3 separate regions of the Homo sapiens genome follow, and all the other regions are linked to region 2. The links come from fine-mapping of genetic effects on gene expression. A gene starts in region 2. Each other region holds a variant in brackets. All regions are shown on one strand. Distances are from middle to middle.

What was found. PIP is the estimated chance that this variant, and not a neighbour inherited with it, causes the effect.
Region 1: its variant is fine-mapped to the expression of CEACAM21 in whole blood (TOPMed, PIP above 0.99).
Region 3: its variant is fine-mapped to the expression of CEACAM21 in whole blood (INTERVAL, PIP above 0.99).

What each region holds. Positions count from the first base shown.
Region 1 is chr19:41,910,806-41,918,338 of GRCh38, reverse strand. ERFL (ETS repressor factor like) reads left to right here. Exons shown (of 6, transcript NM_001365103.2): 2 at 5,407-5,486. The coding sequence starts at 5,420. It also overlaps a transcript of ARHGEF1 not described here. Among named protein-coding and RNA genes, the nearest start is that of ERFL, 14 kb to the left of the region's middle. The variant A/G (reference allele first, on the strand shown) is at 3,886.
Region 2 is chr19:41,571,303-41,578,835 of GRCh38, reverse strand. CEACAM21 (CEA cell adhesion molecule 21) reads right to left here and starts at 2,670. Exons shown (of 7, transcript NM_001098506.4): 1 at 2,498-2,670; 2 at 1,277-1,636. The coding sequence starts at 2,561.
Region 3 is chr19:41,422,157-41,429,655 of GRCh38, reverse strand. It overlaps BCKDHA (branched chain keto acid dehydrogenase E1 subunit alpha), which reads right to left. Exons shown (of 9, transcript NM_000709.4): 6 at 7,286-7,492; 7 at 6,886-7,027; 8 at 6,487-6,658; 9 at 4,654-5,218. The coding sequence ends at 5,048. B3GNT8 (UDP-GlcNAc:betaGal beta-1,3-N-acetylglucosaminyltransferase 8) reads left to right here and starts at 2,282. Exons shown (of 2, transcript NM_001385648.2): 1 at 2,282-2,372; 2 at 2,846-4,297. The coding sequence starts at 2,878. The coding sequence ends at 4,071. RefSeq lists silencers at 1,962-2,111, 2,132-2,241. The variant G/A (reference allele first, on the strand shown) is at 4,923.

The DNA of each region.
Region 1 (7,533 bases), 340 kb before region 2:
TGTACCGTGTGTGTGTATGTGGTGTGTGGGGCTAGGTGTGTCTGTGGTGTATGTGGTGGGTATGTGTGTGGTGGGGGTGTGTATGTATGGTGTGTTTGTGGTGTGTATATGTGGTATGTGTGGTGTATATGTGGCGTATACATGTGGGGTATGTGTACACCCCAGGCACAAAGGCACCCCCAACCAGGGTCAGGCCAGAGCATTTGATGTGGGCAGTGTGGGAATGGGGGTGGCGTCCGGGATGGGGGGGCATGCCCATGCAGGAAACCCCACATCACCCCTGAACCCCCTCCTCTCCAAGACAGGCACAGGGTCTCCTGGTGCCTGTCGAGGGCCGGCCCCTGAGCCTGCTCTGTGTACACATGGACGTGGCTATAGTCTGGACGGACAGGTGTGTGAGCACACACACACACAGTGTGTGACCGCGGGGAGCTGGCTTCGTGCACCCAGATGGGACAGGGTGTTGGGGGCTCGTTTGTGTGGCAACAGATGGGTGGGGCTGGCAGCCGTCCCATGGCTGGGGCTGTGCATGGTGTGTGTGTGCCTACTAGTGGGTGTCACTGTGGGTCTCTACTGTGTGCACAGATGTGTCCTACATGGGCGTGTGGCGTAAGGAGAGATATGTCCCCAGATTGTGCCTGAACGTGTGGCCATGGGTGGGTGCAGTCAGGGTGTGTGTGTGCGTGCGTGCGTGTGCTTTGGGGCATGGTGTGTGCATGCGGGGGCGGCGGTGGCAGAAGGGTCTTAGGCCGCGTCTCTCTCCTCTTTAGACAGAGCCCCGGAGAAGATATGAAATTTAAAAAAAAAATCAATTTTCATTCCGATTGTGCAGATTGTGTTAAGGGGAGGTGGGGATGGGGGGGCCTGGGTGAGGGATGAAGGGGCTGGTGGTGGGGGTGCGAGGCCCGAGGCGGCTCCCGAGGCGGCCGGCGCAGCTTAGAGAAATCAAAACAACTGGTTAAACCCCAGCCCAGGGGGGCGTGGTGATGGGGCGTTAGGAGACAGAGGCAGAGAGAGATGACAGAGAGCTCAGAGACAGAGAGGGACAGAGACAGAGAGAGACAGAGAGATGCACCCAGAGAGAGAGATGGGGGAAACAGAGACACTCAGAGATGGAGATATTTAGAAAGACAGGCAGGCCAAGATGAGCAGAAAAGACCCTCTCTGACAGAGACAGACAGAGACCCTCAGTGACAGAGACAGACAGAAAGATGCGCCGACACCCGAAGGGGCTGAGAGAGACCGAGAGACCTGTGTCTCGAGAGGCAGTCACAGAAGCAGGTCTGAGACAAGGGCACGTGTCACATATGTGCACACACACACACACACCCATGCAGAGACATGCTTGGGAAGTTCACAGATGGAGGGACAGGCAGACAGATGGGGATGGTGGGAGCAGGAGTGGCAGGGGCCTTGGGTTGGGGTCATCTCTGAGTGCCCACCCCTACCCAGTGTGTCTGGGTGTGTCTGTGTGTACCTCTGCAGGGGCCGCTGTCGGTCGTATGTTTGGGTCCGTGATCTTGGTGTGTGTGTGTGATTGTGACTGTGTCTGTGAATGGGTGTGTGTGTGGCCGTGTGCGTTGGCTGTCTGGGTTGGTGCTGGTGTGTGTATCTCTACGGCTCCATGCGTGACCAAGTGCATATGTATGCGCTCGAGGGTCGGTGGTGCTTGGTTGTGTGACTGTGTGTCTGTTTCTGTGTGCTGTTGTCTCAGTGTGCGATTGTGTGCTTGGGAATCTGGGTTTCTGTATTTGATTGTGAGCCTCAGTGTGTGATTATGTGTTTACACAGTGTGTCTAGGATTTGTGATTTTGTGTCTTTGTTTCTGTGTGAGATTGAATTGATGTGTCATGTGTGTATTTGTGTAAAACTGTGTGTCTGTTTCTGTGCATCTGTGACTATGCTGATGTGTGTGTGTGTGACTGTGACAGTGTTGGTGTGTGACTTTACTGACACATGCATCTGTGTGATGTGGGTTGTGTGTGGCAGCAGTGGTATGCGTTGCTTTGTTGGTGTGTGTGATGTGTTGTGTGGGACGTGGTGCTGTGTGTGACTTTGTTGACATGTGGGCTCATGCAGTGTGTGGTATGTGATGGTGTGTGTGTGGCTGTGCTGGTGTGTGCATCTGTGCGATGTGTGCTGTGTGGGACGTGGTGGTGTGCGTGCCTGGGTTGGTGTGTGGGTCTGTGTGGTTGTGCTTGGCAGGGAGAGAAGGGAGGAGGGCCCTCGCCTGCCCAGCGCCTCTGCACACCGCTTCGCTCACATGCGCACACACATTCGGTGCCATGGCTGCGGGCGGTAGAGATGGGGGGCGAAGGGGGGGTGGAGGAAGCAAAATAAAATTAAAAATTAAAGCTTGCCTGGAGTACCCATCCGCACCACGCCGGCCGGCGGGGGGGAGGGGGGTGGGGGATTGTGGCTGCTCCCCATCCACAGCCACTGGGGCTGGGGCCGTTTGTCCATCTGTCCGGCCGTCCTGCCAGGCCCTGTTTGGCCCTGCAGCCCCAGGCCCCGCAGGCCGCGCTCCCTCCATCAGTCGATCAGCGATCAATGGGGCCAGGGGGGCGCCAGGGGCAGGGTGAGATCAAAGGGACCCCAAGAGACGGACACCGGGACAGAAACAGAGACAGAGACATAGAGACATGGAGATGGAGACATGGAGACAGAGACACAGAGACAGGGAGATGGGGCATGGAGACAGAGACAGATGAGACAGAGATGGGGGACATGGGGACAGGACAGGGACTTGAGGAGGAGGAGATATGGAGATGTGGAGACGGAGACAGGGGTGTGGAGACCCTAGACATTAAAACAGAGCCATGTGGAGACCCAGAGACATGGGGACACAGAGACGTGGGGACACAGAAGTGGAGACGACGTGGGAACCAAGAGACAGGGAGGCATGGAGACCCAGAGATGGGAGGGACGGACAGACGGACGGGGACAGGGCGGCAGAGGCGATGGGCAAGGGCGAGGGGTCCAGGTCCCTGTGGGGCCTGACACAGGACGAAGGCTGGGCACAGAGACTGCGAGATGGCAGAGACGCGTGTGAGACACGGCGGGGGGAGCGTGGGAGCAGGGCCCGGAGCGCCGATCCCACGGCTCCTCGTTATAACGTGTCCGGAGGAGGCGGCGGGGAGTTGAAAGCGTCGGGAAGAGAAATCAAAACCAACACGGAAATGAGAGGGGCCAATAGGGGGTGGGGGCGGGGGGAGGAAGGAGGGGGACCCTGAGAGGCAAAGAGAGCGGGAGGTGGGAGAGCGATGGGTGGGGGAGAGGTGTGGGGGAGCGGGGCTGCTGGAGAGACGCGGGACAGGGACACGGTGGGGGCAGAGACAGGAGAGACAGAGATGCTGGAGGGGGAGGGAGGGAGAGACAGAGATAGTGGAAGAGGAGGGAGAGACAGAGACGGAGATGGTGGAGGGGGAGGGAGAGACAGAGACAGAGATGATGGAGGGGAGGGAGAGACAGAGATGGTGGAGGGGGGGAGAGACAGAGACGGTGGAAAGGGGGGGAGACACGGTGGAGGGGGAGGGAGAGACAGAGACGGTGGAAGGGGAGGGAGAGACAGAGACGGTGGAAGGGGAGGGAGAGACAGAGATGGTGGAAGGGGAGGGAGAGACAGAGATGGTGGAAGGGGAGGGAGAGACAGAGATGGTGGAAGGGGAGGGAGAGACAGAGATGGTGGAAAGGGAGGGAGAGACAGAGACAGAGATGGTGGAAGGGGAGGGAGAGACAGAGATGGTGGAAAGGGAGGGAGAGACGGAGACAGAGATGGTGGAAGGGGAGGGAAAGACGGATAGCAGAGATGGGGAGAAAGTCATAGGGAGACAGAGATGGACACACTGGGAAGATGGAGAGACAGATGGAGAAGAAGCAGGGGTG[A/G]GAGATGGAGAAACAGGGAAGAGACTGAGGGGTGGAGGAGGAGATGGAGACGAGAGGGAGAGGGCAGTGAGGTGGGGAGAGAGACCCCCTTGGTGGAGGAGAGAGACAGAAATGGAAGGGAGATGGTGGGGGGAGACGGAAGGGAGAAGAGACCAAGTGACCGGAGAGACAGAGATGGAGAGGGAGAGATACCGAGACGGGGCAGATGGAGAAAGACGGGGAGACAGGTGTGGGAACAGAGGGGGCCTGGGACAGGGGAGGCTCCAGGAGGCAGATGGGAGGTGGGGGCATCTGAGGTTGGGGCCTCTGTGGGGAGACCGGGCGAGTCTGAGGGGACATGGGGTGTCTGAAAAGTTTTGTCCAGTGTCCAGGGGTAGGCGGGGCTCACGGGGGAACACAGTGTGGGCTGCCAGGGTCTGAGGGGTTTCTGGCTGGGGGGCGCATGGGAGCAGTGGGGAGTATCAGGGTGTCTAAGAGGAGTGGGTTTTTGAGAGCGTCTGGGGGGTCTCCAGGAAGAAGGTGCTCCAGAGGTGGGGTGTGAGGGTGGCAGTGAGGGGCTGAAGTGCCTGAGGGGAGGGGTCTCGGGAGCGCGAGGGCAGCGTGTGTCTGCGGAGGGGTGTGAGAGGGAGTGGATTGCAAGGGTGTGTGTGTGGAGGGGAGGCGCCATAAGAGGGGGAAAGGTGCGGGGAGACTGGAGTGAGGAGGGGATGGAGTATCTTAGGGGCGTAAGATATCTAGGGAGAGGGAGTGTCTGAGGGAGGGGGTCTGACAGGGGAGGCAGATGTGAGGGGAAGGGGTGTCTGAGGAGGGAGGCAGATCCAAGTGACAGGGGTCTTCAGGGTGAGCAGCAGGTCTAGGGTCTGTGGAGGCCTCCTGCAGGGCGCTGGGGGCTGCCCTGTGGGGTAGAGGACTGGAGGAGGGGGTGCTGGGCCTGCCCCCCTGCAGCCCGTCCTGGGCGGCTGCGGGTCAGGGCTGCGCCTGGGCTGGAAGAGCCCGCCTGGGGGTCGTCCGGGTGGGGCGGGTGTGGGGGCAAGTTATAGAACAAGATAAATCTGGGGCAGCCAGAGAGAGAGACAGAGGGAGACCCAGAGACGCAGGGACCGACCGACCCGGGAGGTCAGGCGGGAGAGCGGGGACGGGAGACGGCAGCAGAGACGGTGCGGGGCGCGAGCGGCGGGCGGGCGGGCGGGCGTGAGAGCCAGCGAGTGTGAGAGCGTGAGCGAGTGGCGGGGAGCGGGGAGGGAGGCTGGGAGCGGCGTAGTTAGTGATGGAGGCACCGAGTGAGGAGGAGGCTGCGGGAGGAGAGGCTGGGAGGGAAGGAACGGGGTCTCGGGGCCGGGAACGGCTGGGGACAGAGCGGTGCCTGCGGGAGGGAGTGGGCAGGAGGGATTGCGGGGAGAGGGTGTCAGGCTGGGGTGGGGACCTGGGAGAGGGGAAGGCCCCGGGCAGCGCCCCGCTGGCTGACCTGTGTCTGTCTCTCCTGCCCACCCCGTCCCCGTGTGTCCCTCCCGGCCTCTGCAGGGCCGGCTCCGCCATGGACTGTAGCTGCGTCTCCGACCTTCTCTTCGCCCCGCCCGCCCTGCCGGCTCTCTGGACCCCCGGTAACTGGCCCGGACCTCCCCCACCCCTTCCCCCACCCCTCAGGCTTCCCCAGTGAGCCGCATCCCCCTTCTCTCCGTGTCTCCACGTGTCTCACTCTAGTCCGTGGGTCCTTCTCTCTCAGTCTTGGTCAGTCCCCCAAATCAAACCCCTTCTGAGAAACTTGGCTAAAAACTTCGCAGCCAGATTCCCCTGCCCCCTGCGTGCTGGGGGGATAGGTGGGTCTTCTGGGAGGGTACGGAAGTGAGTGAGGGGTGAGGACGGAGGGGCCCGAGGCCCGGGCATCCCTGCCACGCACGTCTCAGCCTGCTCCCACGCAGGACCTGCGGGGAAAAGAGAGCAGGGACTGGGCTGGAGGGGGCACTAGGCCAGGCACGGATGGACAGGTAGACAGACGGCACTGCCCAGTCAGGGGTACGTGCAGGCACGACCCGGCCAGACCGAGACCCAGGAAAGAGGACAGCTTGCAACCGGGGTTGGTGGACGGTGAAGCTGGTCAGACACCATGCTGATGTGCAGCGGGAGGGGTGTGTGTGTGTGTGAGAGACAGACAGAGACTCTGTCCTTGGTTATTTGGGGTCTCATTTCAGTGTGTCCCTGTGTCACACTTCAGTGTTTCTAGAAGGGGTCACACTGGGAGAATGTGTCTGCACAGCCTGTCTTTGTGTGAGCTTGTGTATTTGCTTGTACGTGCACATCTGAGGCTACTTGAGTGTCTCTGGGCTGGGCGTGTCCGCATTTTGGGATGGGGGCGTCTGCCAGCTCTCCGACTGTGCCTCTGCCTGAGTGGGGTGAGGAGCCTTTGCCTGTTTCTTGCGGTCTGTCTCGGGTTGTGTGGCGTTCCGCATGGCTGTCTTGGTGCATTTGGGGCTGTGGGGGGGATGCATCCCTGGGCCTCTGTGTTGGGGGCTGTGTCTGGTTTTCAGCGTAGGGTCCATGTGCACATGAGTGAATTCTGGGGGTTTGTCTGTCACATGTGTGTGTCTGCCTACTGAGTTTGGGGGTCCTCTCTCTAGCTGTGCCTGTGCCTCATAGGTACAACATATTTGAGGGTGTGCATTTGAGGACAGATGGAGTATCGGGTTGGGTGTCCTCTTGTCACCTTGGGGTCCTGTGGGTGTGTCTGTGATACAGTTGCCTCCCCAGTAGGATGTGTTCTGGGTGTGGAATGGGTCAGAGCTGGAGTCTGGATCCAGCCCTGTCATGGGAGGTGAGAAAGACCCAAAAATGAATGGAGATAAAAATTCTCCCTCAAGGAGACTGCCTGGAGCTCCCCGGCCTTCAGGCCGGGAGGCACAAGCACCCACTTTTCTACACCAGGCAGCCTGGGTGGGACCCTGCGCCCCCTTGCCTTCCACCTGTGCAGTTCTAAACCAGAGAGGGTAAGGACCTGCCCGTAATCACACAGCAAGTGGACACGGCGATGCTGGTCTCCCCTGCCCTGGCGCACAGCAGTCTCCTCTCTCCTGCACTGCTGCCAGCTTTTTATGGACTCACTCTGCCTTCTATTTTCATGCCTGGGTCTGGGGTCTCTGAGGAGGGGGAAGGGGACAGAGGATGTGGCATAAGAGTGAACACAGAAGTTGGACCCAGGGCTTGGGGCCTTCTGCATGGGAGATGAGATTTCGGGGTGCCCAGCTCCTGGGGGTATGTGGACAGTGGAGTACTCCCCTCTGCATGTGAGACGTGATGCTGAGTGAGCCGGGGGTGTCAGTGCTGACATGTGGGTGCCTCTGTGTGCAGGTTTGGGAAGTTGCTCTACTGACATGCTGTCACCCTGTGTGTCTGGGGACATGGATATCTTGGTGCTGTGTTCACCGTCTCCATCGTACAGTGTGTTCTTTGGGCATTTGGGGTCCTGTGTGTGTCTTGTCAGGCATTTGTGTTGTTAGTAAGTCCCAGTCTTGAGATGTGTAATTCTGTGTTGTGATGGGTGTGCACTGTGGGGTTGTTGAGATGACGTGACCTTGAGTCTTGCGCAGCCTGTGTCTGCCATGTCAGCCTTGGTGGCCCCCAGCATGAGTGTGGCACTCCGGTGTGCCTGTGTCC
Region 2 (7,533 bases):
AGCTGAGTCCTTTCCTTCATCCTCCCATGGGAGTGACATCAACAAATCAAGAAATTCATGATTTCACGTCCAGTGAGGGAAGGAATGTGGATCTGATGGGAGAGGCTTGGACAATCCTGGCATTGAGTCTGATAGTTGAGACAGGTGATTTCGTTCTAAGTAAAAACTGACTAATTCTCCATTTGCCCGTCATTCCTCAGACCAGAATCTCCCTCTCTGAGCTGAGGATGCCCAAGAAGAAAGGAGCTGAACCAACATCTGGTCCTGGGGTCCACAGATGCCCCACGGTGGTGGCCACGACCAGATTCTGGGCTGCAGACACACGGTGGTGTGACGTTGAGCACTGACAGCCTGTGTGATGCTGATGCAATTTCTCTTTAATAAAATGGGGTACATGTCAATGGTCCCTGGCTTGCCATCCTCTCTGTAAATTAACATTAAAATATTTACAATTACCTGACCTAAAGCTTGGCACAGAATAGCTCCAAATAAACATCATCTATTATTATTTTACTCCAAAAAAAAAAAAAAAGAGTTCTCTGGGCCTGATTCCTGGTGGAGAAGGAGCGGTCCAGAGTGTCTTTTCTCTGCTTTCCCTCCTCCTGAGGACAGTGCACTTCCCGGGACATCTTTTAAGTTTCCCATCCAGTTTAATGGCCTGGGAAGTTTGTTTGTCTGTCCTCTCCACTCTGACTCTCAGGTGAAAGATGAGGCTCTGCCCTTGCCCAGATGGGGCTCTGGGGGCTGAGCCCTGCCTGGTGACCAGCTCTAGGAACCACGGCCCTGGGACAGCTGGTAAATCCTTGCTCACAATCAGCCCTGCCCAGGAAGCCACAACCCAGCCCTGGCACAGGCTCCCCAGGGTCATCTGGAGTCAGGATCTTGGGACAGGGGCCTGGGGCAGGGGCTTCAAGGGCTGAGCTTCTCTCAGAGGATCCTCAGGCCAGGCCCTGACTGAGTCCTATAAGATCTTTCTCAGGTCATGTCTATGAGGAGGAGGCCAAGGGGGGTTGGACTGAGACTGATTTTCCCCCGCTGCATCTCCCGCATCAGACTATCCTTCTTGCTGTAGGGAATTTCCACGGAGTCCGGATAAGGGAAAGGAATTCTGATCTGTTATAGTTTGTCTCCCCTGGGTGTGTCCTGCACTAAATGCCCAAACCCCAACATGGGACGTAATGCAGAGGGGGATGCAGGCACAGCCCAGGCCTGACAATCCTGCGTATGTGAAGCAGAACTGACCCCCAACACCCAGAGGCACGGAGGAATCACTCACCGTATACACGGAGATGGTGAGATGCCTGTTCAATCTGAGAATTTCTGTATGTGACTTGTAGGTTGTAGTATCCCGTGTCCTCTAGGGTGACGTTCTGGAAATGCAGATCTCCACTGGGTGATATTGTCTCTCGACCGCTGTATGCAGGCCCTGGAGTCCTAACGTGAGTGTCTATTACATATGCTGCGATTAGCTGGTTGGGCTCCACCGTTTTCCCTTTGTACCAGCCATAGCTGTAAAGATTCTCGGGCAGATAAACCACAGAGAGATGAACATTCTCCCCTTCAGCAACTTCAAAGGGCGCTGATGCAATAAAGAGCCAGGCAGTGGTGGGTGCGTTCCAGAAAGTTAAAAGTGAGGCTAGGAAAGGGAGAGAATATCAGTCAATATTTGACCTATGCATTGGCATGGAAAGACGGGGTCCTGGGTGCAGGTCTCTTCACCCCTCAGCCTTAGAGGGTGTGTGTGTGTGTGTGTGTCCTACTGGGTCAAAGTCAGCAGCATGACCCTCATTCCTTCAGTACCTCTGACCTTGGCATTTCCTTGTGTGAACCCTCTTTCCCAGGGGTCTGCATGGTTCCCTCCCCACTGCCTTCAGTTCCTACTCACACAAGGGAATCCCTGGGAGACTTCTTTCGTGAAGCCTCCTCTAGAGACCCTGGGTCTTCCCTTTCTGACCTTTCCCAGCTCTGTTCCCTCCAGGGCTCTTGTCAGCACCTGACCTCACATTCTAGATCTCTTTGGGTGTCTGTCTTCCCCCCCATGAGATTGTGAGCTCTGTGAGGGCATGGACTTGAGTGATGTTAGTTGCACCCCAGTGCCTGGGACAGGCTGCAGACTCCTGTGGATGAGTTCATGAGCGTTCCCAGGGCCTTCCATATCCTGGGGTTTATTTGCTAATGTCTGAGGTTGGCAGATGAAGACAGAGTTTCATGCCCTGGTGGTGTTTTTATTTAAATTGTCACTGTGATATAGTTTTACTATCATTTTCAAAGTGTAGTGGCCACTGACAATGAACTTGAAAACATGGACCAACTGAGATTGTTTTGCCCCTTGGCAATTCCAGTTCACTTAGATTTTTTGGTTCTCCTTAGACGCTCTCTCCCCTGAGTCTCTAACAAAAGCCCTCTGTCTCCTCTCAGAGCCCCATCCTCCCCAGGAGACCCCAGCCAGTCTCTGTGCTCCCTCCTCCCACCCACTCCCAGGGAGTCCTCCCCTCACCTGTGAGCAAGAGCCCCTGCCAGGGGATGCATTCTCTGTGGGGACAAGCTGAGGGGGGCCCCATGGTCTCTGCTGCCTGCTCTGTCCTCCTCTGTGGAGAGGAGCTTGGGCTCCAGGAACGCTCTAGACAGGGTTACTGTGACTGTTGTCTCTGCTGTCCTTCCTTCCTCTATGCTGAGCTTCCTCTCAGGCAGGAGCACTTCCCGTTTATGGGCAAGGGCGGGGCTCTGCCTACAATGTCTCTCTGTCCCCTCCCCTCTCAGTCCTGCCTCCCTTGTCCCTCCTTTCTCCTTCCTTTTTGCCTATATTTGGTTCCCTAGGCAAAACTTTGAGAAGCAACGCTGATGGGGTCCTCATAACAGGACGACCCACTCTCCCCAGTACTGACCTCTGCTGTGTTCTGGCCTTGGTTCTGTCACAGCCGGTAGATTATTTCCCTTTGTGACACACAAAACCAGCTGGGCCCTGGGTCTCCTCATGCTCTCCAGTGCTCCAGGAAGGCAGAATGATGCCCAGCAGGAAAGTGACAGAGGTGGCTCTGGGGGCTAGAAAGGGGCTCACTGGGTGATGGCTGGGAAGGACCCACCCGCTATCTTCAGTGTCACCAGCCTGGCCTCTGACCCAGGGACAGAGACCCAGGCCTGGAGGTCTCGGGAGGATCCCCAGCTCCTAGGTGTGGAGGGAGGTGTCCTGTGTGTCCTGGGAAGAGAGGACTTTGATGGAAGGAGGTGGGAGGCTCTGGGTTCTGCTGTCCTTGGTGAAGGTTTCAGGGGGACCCTCTCCGTGTCTGGGGTCTGTGCCCCCAGCTTAACTCTCATTCTCTTTGCAAATACATATATTTTGTGGATCTGCAGTTGCCTGAACTGTCTCATGTCCCTAAATCTTTGTATCCCTTTTTACAGAAGGTCAGGAAGGGTGTGTACATGAGTATGAGGACTATCTGATCAGGGCGAGTGTTTGTTTCCCAAAGATCTCTTTAGATATGGTATAATACATAAGATAAATGTACTGAATTAGCAATTTTAAGTGTAGAATTAAATGATACTAATTCTATTCACAATGTTGTACAACCATCACCATAATTTTTTACCAGAAAATCTTCATTATACCAAATGGAAACTTCATACTTTTAATCAATAACTCCCCACTTCCCCCTGCCCCACCCACTGGTAGCCTCTGATACTATCAATCTCTGTGAATTTGCCTAGTTTACATGTCTCATATAATAAGGAATTATATACGTGTATTATTTTTTTCTGGATTATTTCTCTTAGGGTAACACTTTTAAGATTCATCCACGTCGTAGCATATATTACAGCTTCTTTCCTATTTATGGCTGAGTAATATCCCAATATATGTTTATACCTCAATTTTAATTCATTCATCTCTTAATGGACATGTGGGTGGTTTCCACATTTTTGCTATTGTGAAAACCGCTGCAATGAACTTACACTTGGAAGTATCTGTTTGGGTTTCTGTGTTCATTTCTTTGGGGGTACATATAGGAGTATAAATATGGGGTCATGTGGTAGTTCTATGTTTAAGTTTTTGAGAAACAGCCAAACTGTTTTCCAGTTTGCTGTGCTATTTTATATTCCCATCAGCAATATACGAGGGTTCCATTTTCTCTACATTCTTGTAAACACTTACTATTTAATATTTTTTAAAACTTATAGCCATTCTAGTAGGTGTGAAGTGATAGCTCATTGCAGTTTTGATTTTCATTTCCCTGGTGGCTGATGAAGTTGAGCATTTTTTCATGTATTTGCTGACAATTTTAATATTTTTTAGAGAACTATTTATTCAAATCATTTGCTGTTTAAAAAAAATGGGTTATCTTTTTATTATTCAGTTGTAATAGTTCTTTATATATTTTAGATACAAGTCCCTTATGGGGTACATGATTTGCAAAATTTTTCTCATATTCTGTGTCTTCTCACTTTCTTCATGGTGTTCTTTGAAGCACAAACATTTTTAACTTTGATGAAGTTCACTTATCTATTTTTAATTTTGTTACTTATGCTCTTGATGTCATATTGAAGAAACCATTGCCCAATCCAAGATCATTAAGTTTTACTCCTATATGTTCTTCTAATGGTTTGATAAGTTTTGCTATTCCATTTAGGTTTTTGAAACATTTTGAGTTAACTTTTGTATGGGCTGTGAGGTAGGGGTCTAACTACACTATCTCGCATGTGGTTATCCAGTTGTTCCAGCACAATATGAAGAGGCTACCATTCTTTCCCCATTGAGGAATCTTGGCACCCATGTCAAAAACCAATGGGCTGTAATGGTGAGGGTTTATTTCTGGACTCTTGATTCTATTCCATTGATCTCTATGTGCATTCTTGTGCCAGAAGCACACTGTTTTAATGATTGTAGTGTTTTAGTAAGTTTTCAAATTAGGAAGTGAGTCCTCCAATTTTTTTTTCCAGATTGTTTTGGCCATTCTGGGGTGACTTTTAAAAAAGATGTAGTTCAATGGTTCTCAAAGCAGGAGTGGTTCAGCTCTCCTTTTTTGGCAGTCTGGAGACCTTTTTAGGACCTTAATCTAAGTAGATAAATTATTCCCACTTTCTTTTCTGAGTTGCTATGTTACAGTGTATATTGACACCCATGAAATAATTGAGAGACCCTGGAAGTGCTTGCCTACATAGTGAGGGACAATTAGTTCCATGATCATGGGCACAGAAGATTTTGTTTTGGGAAACAATTTTGTTGGTGGAGTTATATTCATGCTTACTCTTTTATTTGTCTTCATAGCCTGCATCTCCTTCAGACTTCATATCTGTTTATTTTCTTGTTTGTCCTCTGGGGTTTGGGTGTTGGGTGACCAGTCAGCTGGAGCTGGAGGAGGTGCTTAGCAAGGCAGTGACCCTGGTTGGGAGGAGCAGGGCTCAGCAGGGTGAAAGTAGCTGGGCCTTGAGTCAGGAGTGGCATCTGGAAGGCCTGACTGTAAGGGTCAGAAGGGCCAGCAGGTGGGTGTCCTAGGCACAAACGGTGGCTGCTGCTGTGGACTGGAGGAAGGTAAGAGGCCCCGAGTATTCCATGTTCTTACTGGCTCCCCAACTGAGGATTCCTCTCCTGGGCTGGTGCTGTCCTGCAGCAGGGAGGGGTTAGACAGGGACGGCTGCACATCAGGCCGGAGTCCATGTCATCCTCTTAGGCACTGTCACTACAGATTGAGGATTCTGTTCATAAGCCAAGCCTTTGCACAAGGAAGGGACCCGGGCTCTCAAGGAAGAGCAGCTCCTGGTCAGACCTCCATCTCCTTCTCTCTCATTGCCTGAGGCCTCAAGCTTGGTCTACCTGGCACAGGGGTCTGGATCCTCCTCCCAGGGTTGGGGTCTTACTGAGCTGGGCACCTGCAGGTGGGAGAAGATCTGGAGGGGCCCCATCTGCCTTCACCAGATTGATGTTGAGGGTCCCTGAGTCCTGCACCACTATCAGGTGCTGAGCAACTTCCAGTGTCAGTGACAACCACCCCATGGTGGAAGCAGAACCACCTCGTGAGAAAGCACCTCCAAGCCTCAGTGCTTGCCATGTGTGGGAATTTGCTGGTTTCAGTTGGGGGCATGTTGGTGGGTGGTCATGAATTCAGGGCCGGATTCTATGCTCACAGTGCACATGCTGGATGTGGTACAGACCCCAGGCAGGGCTCAGTGGGGTGGTTTTGGGTGTGCACAGGTATCTTTTCTGGAGGAGCTGGTGGTGATTTGGCTCCCAGAAGTTCCTGAGCTCTGCAGACTCACCAAGCACTCAATATTTGAGTGAACATTGGGCGAGAGAGCAGAAGGTAAGTGTCAGGGCATCGGGGTTGGTGCCTCTGGGAAGAGGAGGAACATTCTGGGAACAAAGCTCTCCCCCGGCTTACAGGGAGCTTCCCATCGCTCCTGCCTTGAGGATCAGGGAAACTAGGGCCTCTGCTCTTCCAGGGGCTGCTTGCAGGCAGTTTGCTCTGGGAGGGGGTGACCCAGGAGTTGCCTCTCATTTTGCATTTGAGATTTAAAAGGAGAAGGGACAGTATATCTTGCCAGGTCACAAAAATTACAGGCATCATATTGACTGAAGGGCACTCCTGTCATCATTGCAATATACCAGAATGGTCTTTTAAAAAAATAAGTGATTTAGGTTTACCAGCAACTGTAATGCTTGTTTTATTCTTCTAGTTCACCGTTAATGTCACTTTTGTAGTTTTAGCACTGGCAATGTTGATTTTATGTTGACTCTGATGATTTTAAGCTTTCATTTGTTCACATAGAGATCATCTTCTTTCTGAATATTAATGCATTTTTTCTCTATTTCTACTGGTTATTCCTGTACATAGAGTAGAGAATCACTTTTCCCAAGGAGGTGGAAAGCTTCTGACTACCAAAAAAAAAAAAAAGTGTCAAAATGCTTTAAAGTCAGTAACTTAAAGATCAAATCCAAGAGTGGGCAACAGATTCTGCCCAGGGTCTGAAAGGTGGAGAGGTGACTGGTGAGGATGTTTAAAAGACCTCTCCTCTCTACTCCCTAAATGGGGGCCATCCAGTGTTCTTGAGGTTCAGAGAAGGCCCAGGGCTGGGGCAGCAGGGCACTGTCAGCTCCCAGCTCCCAGGGGCCAGGAGTAAGACCCCAACACTGTCCAGACACTGATTGCATTCATTTTGGGGGAGAGTAGATTCTTATTTAAAGAATAATACAAAAGTCTACAAATTTGAACATAAACAGAAATTCCTTTGCTACAATTTTCCCCTTAATAAGACATTCCTTCCTAATGACATATGTGACTGCATTCATGGCTGAGATGTTTTCTAGGATGGTGAGAGCATCAGAGTGGACTATCTGGTGCCTTGGGGTCATGCATTTTCTTCTTTCAATGTCTACAGGATCCCCCATGTCCCACTTTGTAGTGTAACTCAGTGTGTGTCATTCTGGTTTTTGTTGTATAGATCCTTGGAAAGCCCATGTCATTCCTGCTGTGAGGTACAGGCAGCCAAATGGCATCATCTCTAAACATGCCTTCTCCTGGTACATCAAATTATGGAATAAAT
Region 3 (7,499 bases), 150 kb after region 2:
AGCCACTGTCCCACCACAGTTTTTTTTTTCTTATGGCCAGCTCTTATACAGAAATAACAGATACACCCCATTCTTCTTAAGACTCACCACAGCGCCCCTTGCTGCCTCTAGACCCATAAATACCTAGGGTGAAATCAGCTTGCTCCAGGTGAACAGGTGCCAGCTAGGACCTAGGCGGGAGCAGCTTTTACACTATAAGAATGACAAGGCTTCGCAAATATACAGAGTCAGAAACTTGGGGAATGTGTGCAGAAGGGGATTTTAAGGATGTTACACCAATGAGGGTGGATGTAACACTAGCTCAGGCCAAATTTACTGGCATGAGTGCGCTTTCTAGAGCTTCTGGATTTCATGGGTTACCTTGTGCAGCTGGACGTAGTTCTAATAGCTTGCTTGGGTGCCTAACCGGAACTTGGATCCAACAGTGGCCTAAAGTTAATGAGGCAGAGAGACCAGAACTGCCCTAGCATAAGATGGGTGAGGGGAGTCCCAAGGCTTGGGGAGACAGAAGTGTTGGATTGGAATGATCGTGTTCCACCAGCATGTCCACCCTCCAACCATGTTCCCCAAGAAGGCACCCCTTAGTGGCCAATCCCATGAGAGTTAATCATTCTGTATATTGAACTTTCCCTATTCCCATTCCTGTGTGGTTTCTCTCTCCTGATTGGACCCGGACTGAGGCACATGGCAAAGGCAAAAAGAAAGGCACCTTGTGAAGCTTCCTAATGCTTCCAGGAGGAGCAGCACCCCCTGCCCCCAGAAGCTAGATGAGCTCAGGGGGCCTGGAGTCCCTCTCCCCCAGCCCCAGAGTGGAGTGGGCTTGCAGACTCCCTCAGGAGGTGCTCGGGCCCCTGCCCCCAGCCCCTAGCTGTCATTTCCCACTCCAACTATTATTCCATTAATATTCACCACTTCCTCCCCACTCTCTTCCTCCAGCTGTTCCCACAGGCTCCATTATTCAAACTTTGGGGGAGGAAATCAGGGCTGGACAGATCATCAACTGCTGCTGCTGACAGACTGTGTTCCTGCCATGATGGGGACAGGCCTGCCCCAAACCAGGGTGGAGTGAAGGGGTCAGCCCAGGCTTAGTGGGAGCCCCTTAGTCTTACCCCATGTCTTGGGAGGTCTTCAGAGAGCTGATGCAGTCCCAACAGCAGGGGCCCCTGGAGGGCAGGGATGCAAACACAGGCAGACACCCCCTCCTGCCCCAAGGGGCTGGATGTGAGTGTTCCTGGAGTCACAGTGCCGCTGGGGGAGGGGAGGGGCCCGGGGTGAGGCTGGCTCCAGGCCGGAGGTTGGGGGTAAGGTAGGAACAGATTCCCACGCTGCTGGGCAGGCAGCCCGGGTGCCGAGAGGGATGGAGGAGGTACAGGGGATCAGCTTAGCTCCCGGGGTTCCCCGTGGGCCCCACCCCGTCACCCTCTATTGCCCTTGAAGCTCCAGTCTTTTCCTCTCCTGTTCTTCCCCTTGGCTCCCTCTCCGCCTCTGCCTGGGTCTGGCTCGGAAGCCTGAGTCCCTCCCCTCTGCCCTCCACCTGCCTCTCTCAACCTCTCTTTCCCCATGAGCACCCCACAGGGCTTCCGCAACCCCTTATCTTTCTCGCCATCTCCATTTCCCTCCCCCTCTCCCTCCTGGCCACCTTCCCACTTGCCCGTCTTCTCTCTCTCTCCCCCTCAGCTCTCTCCATCGCCTGTCTCACCCCAGTTCTCCTCTCTCTGCTCCCTGGCCGTCTCTTCCCTCTCCACAATGTCTCTGTCTCTCCTTCTCCTCACCAGCCCCGTTCCCCCCACCTCACCCTGACTGGGCAGCAACAACAAACATCCCTCTGGCAGGCCCGCCGATCCCTTCCCACTCAGCACATTCACTGCCGCCTCCTGGCCATGGGTGCAGCCGGGCGCCAGCCTCTCAGCCTCCCCATCTCTGCCTCAGTGGGACCCTGCCTCGCCCTGGTCACTCTAACACTCCCCAGCCCAGGCCCAGCCTTCAGCCCCACCCTCCCTGGCACCCCCTGGCCCTGGTTCTCCCCTCCCAGGCCTCACAAAGCCCCCGTCTTGTTTCTGTGGCTGCCCCCTGCACCCTTCCCAGCTGTCTCACCAGAAACCAGCCCTAACACGCCAGAGCCCCATCTCTCAGGTCGGCCTCCTGCCCTCCTCCCTCCCTCCCTCCCTCCCTCTCTCCTGCCTCAGCCCCGCCCCGGCCCCTGGGGCCCTCCCTGCTCCCGCTCCACTCCCCTCCCCGCCCCTCTGGACTGGCTGGGCAGGGCTGGGCCCCGCCGGTCGACAACACAGGGGCTGGGGCAGGCAGATCAGAGGGAGCTGAGGGAGGCCTGACCTGAGGCCGGCACCCGGAGCTGGCGGGAGCCAGACCCAGAGGTAAAAAAGCATGGGATCCCTGGTTCCCCAGTCCCTGGGGTTGGGGTGTTGCGGGAGGCAGGCTGGGTTTCTAACCCCAGGGAGCTAGGAATCCCGCTCCTGATTTCCTGGTGAGGGCAATAAATGGAGGGAGAGGGAGGAGATAGACGGCAAGGTCCCTTGTCCTGGATGGAGACAGGGAAGAGGTAGACCCTTGGGCTTTTAGGAAGGTGGAAGCATTTGGACGGAGTGGGAAGAACAGGGTGCTGGTACGGGATTGGAATGGGGGACTCCTAGGTCTAGGAATAAGGACCAACGAGGTCCCTGGGTCAGGGGAGCTGTTTAGGATCTGGGACCGAGAGAATCTGTTATGGGGGTTGGCGGGGACTATGGGAGATTGTGAAGCTGTCTGCCTGGGGCCTGGCTGGGCCCTCTCTGGAGGCCCATCCCCACACCCCAATGGCCTCCGTGGCTCCCCTGTGGCTCCCTTGTAGCTCCCGCGGCCGCCCCTTCCCTGGGCCGGGTCATGCGCTGCCCCAAGTGCCTTCTCTGCCTGTCAGCACTGCTCACACTCCTGGGCCTCAAAGTGTACATCGAGTGGACATCCGAGTCCCGGCTCAGCAAGGCCTACCCCAGCCCTCGGGGCACCCCGCCAAGCCCCACGCCAGCCAACCCTGAGCCCACCCTACCTGCCAACCTCTCCACCCGCCTGGGCCAGACTATCCCGCTGCCCTTTGCTTACTGGAACCAGCAGCAGTGGCGGCTGGGGTCCCTGCCCAGTGGGGACAGCACTGAAACGGGGGGCTGCCAGGCTTGGGGGGCCGCCGCCGCCACCGAGATCCCTGACTTCGCCTCCTACCCCAAGGACCTCCGCCGCTTCTTGCTGTCAGCAGCCTGCCGGAGCTTCCCACAGTGGCTGCCTGGAGGTGGTGGCAGCCAAGTCTCCAGCTGCTCAGATACTGATGTCCCCTACCTGCTGTTGGCCGTCAAGTCAGAACCAGGGCGCTTTGCAGAACGACAGGCCGTGAGAGAGACGTGGGGCAGTCCAGCTCCAGGGATCCGGCTGCTCTTCCTGCTAGGGTCTCCGGTGGGTGAGGCGGGGCCTGACCTAGACTCACTAGTGGCCTGGGAGAGCCGTCGCTACAGTGACCTGCTGCTCTGGGACTTCCTCGACGTCCCATTCAACCAGACGCTCAAAGACCTGCTGCTGCTGGCCTGGCTGGGCCGCCACTGCCCCACCGTGAGTTTTGTCTTGCGAGCTCAGGACGATGCCTTTGTACACACCCCTGCCCTGCTGGCTCACCTGCGGGCCCTGCCACCTGCCTCGGCCCGAAGCCTCTACCTGGGTGAGGTCTTTACCCAGGCCATGCCTCTCCGGAAGCCAGGAGGACCCTTCTATGTGCCCGAGTCCTTCTTCGAAGGTGGCTACCCAGCCTATGCAAGCGGGGGTGGCTACGTCATTGCCGGGCGCCTGGCACCCTGGCTGCTGCGGGCGGCAGCCCGTGTGGCACCCTTCCCCTTTGAGGACGTCTACACTGGCCTTTGCATCCGAGCCCTGGGCCTGGTGCCCCAGGCCCACCCAGGCTTCCTCACAGCCTGGCCAGCAGACCGCACTGCGGACCACTGTGCTTTCCGCAACCTGCTGCTGGTACGGCCCCTGGGCCCCCAGGCCAGCATTCGGCTCTGGAAACAACTGCAAGACCCAAGGCTCCAGTGCTGACTCTCATTGGGGAGGGCGGAGGTGCTGACCTGGCCTGGGCCTCTGGGGCCGGCCCCTGGCTCAGCCCCTCCTTCCAGGTCTTGATGGGAGGGAGGAGGGCCCAGAAGCTGGACAACTTAAGCCACTCCTTGGCCTCCCCCAGCCAGGGGCCTGGGCAGGAAAGATGGGGTGGTGGACTGTTTTTGCCTACTTTTTGTTTTTGAAAAACATGCACTCCCCACTCTGAGGCCTGGGGTTGTTTTTGCATCTGTGGGGCCCTGGAGTGGTGGGGAGCAGGGCTTGGCCACACCCTGACCTTCATCCTGGACGCTCCCCTGCACCCCTGCTGGGCAGGGCTAGCTCCACTGGGCTCCCCATCACTCTGCTGGACAGCAGGCTTCTCCCATTCTGTGAGAGAGCAGGAGACCATCTCTGGAGGACCCCCCCACCCCCATCCTGTCTGCTGAAGTTAACCTTCCAGCTTGCGCAAGCTTCCGGGGGAAGTAGGTATCTCAAGAGCCTTGACCTTATTTATCTAAGGTGGAGAAGCTGGGGGTGGCCTCAAATCACCCCCAAACTCCAGGAAACAAAGACCAGAGGTGGTAGAGAGCCAGGCGCAGAGATGCAGTTTATTCGTGACCTCTGCTGGCCACTCGCACCTGCGCAAGTTCCACAGGCTGACCTGCCATGTCCACCCCATGCCCAGAGGGGCTTCTAGTCCTGAATGTGCCCTCACCCAGCCCCTGGGAGAAGGCACTGTAACAACAGGTGAAGAGGGGGCTGACGGAGCCTCAGCAACTGCTGCAGATGCTGTCCCCTGACAATGTAACAGCCGGGAGGAGCAGGGGTGAAGAGTGGCAGCCGCCCTGGCC[G/A]CTGAGTATTTTAGAGGGAGCTGACTGGGGAAGACAGTGGTGTGCTGTCAGGTCCCCCTGCTCCCCTTAGAGTGGGGCTACCTCTCGGGGTAGCTGAGGATGGGTGGGGGTGGGCTGAGCAGGTCTCACTTATCGAAGTGATCCAGTGGGTAGTGCTCCCCGTAGGTCTGCAGGTGGCGGGCCAGAGACTCCTGCTGCTTGCGGAGCTGGGCGGGCATCTCCTGATACACGTCTGAGAAGAGTAGGTTGGGGTTGGGTTTGGGCTTCCGCTCGGCCTGCTCAAAGGCCTCCATCACCTGTGGGGACATGGGGCAGTGGGCAGGCTAGCCGGCCTCCCATGCAGGACCCTGCTTCCTCCTGCGGGGCCTTGGCAAGGAATTAACCACTCCAAGCCTTTGTGTTCCCACCTCGACAATGGAAATGATTATCCTAGCAGAAGTGTAATGAAAACCCTCAAATCCCAGCAGGGATCAGGTGCTATCCAAGTGTGTGGAATCATTTAAGGCTTTCAGCAGCCCTAAGAGGTAGACAGCTAAGCAATGAGGAAACTGAGGCACAGAGAAGGGCAGGGACAGGACACACGGTGCTGCCCTATGCCGGGTGCTGCCCTCACCACTGGGCTGCACGGGCCCTGGGTCCTAATGACCGGGCCAGGGAGGGTGGCACACTGACTCTGGGCAGGGCATGTACACTCCACCACGGTTTGCCACCTAATCCTCAAACCAGCTTTTTTTTTTTTTTAAGAGATAGTCTTGCTCTGTTGCCCAGGCTGGAGTGCAGTGGCGCCATCTCCAATCACTGCAAGTTCCACCTCCCGGGTTCAAGCGATTCTTCTGCCTCACCTTCCTGAGTAGCTGGGACTACAGGCACGCACCACCACGCCTGGCTAATTTTTTTTTTTGAGATGGAGTCTTGCTCTCGTTGCCCAGGCTGGAGTGCAATGGTACGATCTCAGCTCACTGCAACCTCTACCTCCCAGGTTCAAGCAATTCTCCTGCCTCGGCCTCCCAAGTAGCTGGGATTACAGGCACCCGGCACCATGCCCGGCTAATTTTTGTATTTTTATTAGAGACGAGGTTTCACCATGTTGGCCAGGCTGGTCTCAAACTCCCGACCTCAGGTGATCTGTCCGCCTTGGCCTCCCAAAGTGCTGGGATTACAGGCGTGAGCCACTGCGCCCAGCCCTAATTTTTGTATTTTTAGTAGAGACAGGGCTTGACCATGTTTGGCCAGGCTGTTCTCAAGCTCCTGACCTCAAGTGATCTGCCACCTCGGCCTCCCAAAGTGCTGGGATTACAGGTGTGAGCCACCATGCCCAGTCTCAAACCAGTTTCTGAAATGGGCACCACCAGCATCCCCTTTCAAAGACAAGGAAGTGGAGGGCAACATGCCAAGGACACAGAGCCAGGACACACATGGCCCCAGCAGCCTGGCTCCACAGGCCACATCTGAGACATCACTGGGGTTATCCCTGAGCCTCCCAGTTCGGTGTTCCACAAATCCTTCCCAAGCTCTGCAGGCCGCAGCAGCCCCCAGCACACCCTCCCGGGCGGGGCACCCTCACCTTCCTGCGGGACTGCTTCCTCCAGGCCTTCTCCTGCTCCTCATCCCACCAGCCTTGGCTCAGCAGATAGTGCCGCAGCCGGGAGATGGGGTGGTCCTGTTTATCCCAGTAATTGACCTCATCCACCGAGCGGTACGCTGAACTGTCGTCACTGGTGCTGTGGTGCCCGATCCTGCACAGGGGCAAGGGGCCCCAGGTCAGTGTGGGCTCCCTGGAGTGGGGGTCAGGAGGGAGGATGGGGGATGAACTAGGGAAGGAGGAGTGGAAACGGAATAAAGGCAAGGGGGAGATGCAACATCAGGTGATAAGGCCATGTTTTGGAGACAGTGATCGATATGAGGAAGATGCTACGGTGGCTGTCAGTGCTGTGGGGGTGCTGACGGGGGGAGCGGCAGGCACCTGTAGGTCATGGCCTCGATGAGGAAGGGCTGGTTCTCTGCCACAGCCCGCCGTCGGGCCTCCTTTGTGGCGTTGTATACGGCAAACACATCATTACCATCCACGCGGATTGACATGATGCCATACCCGGGGCCTCGTGCTGCTGTGGGGACACAGAGAAGGCAGGTCAGGCCAGGGCTGAGATAAGGAACATGCACGAGGCCAAGGGGACGAGCAGGGAGAGGACAGAGAGCAAGGCTGAGTGCTCAGGACCTCAACTCCTGTGGCTGACCAAGTGCCAGACGCCACAGGACACAGGACGAGAACCAGGAAGGAGGGTAGGGGTGGCAGGAAGGTGGCAGGATTGGGGAGGGAAGGAGATGATCCCAGCGGGGTGGGGAGCAGCCAGCAGAGCCCATACCAATGCCATCGCCGCGATACTGCTCAGAGGTGGGCGTGGAGATGGCGTAGCCATTGTTCCGGCAGAAGAAGATGATGGGGCACTCAAGTGTGGCAGCGAAGTTGAAGCCGGCATGGGCGTCCCCCTCACTGGCTGCCCCCTCGCCGAAGTAACAGATGACGACCCTGTTGGCATTGGCCCGCTTGGCTGCGTACGCCGCCCCCACCGCTGCAGG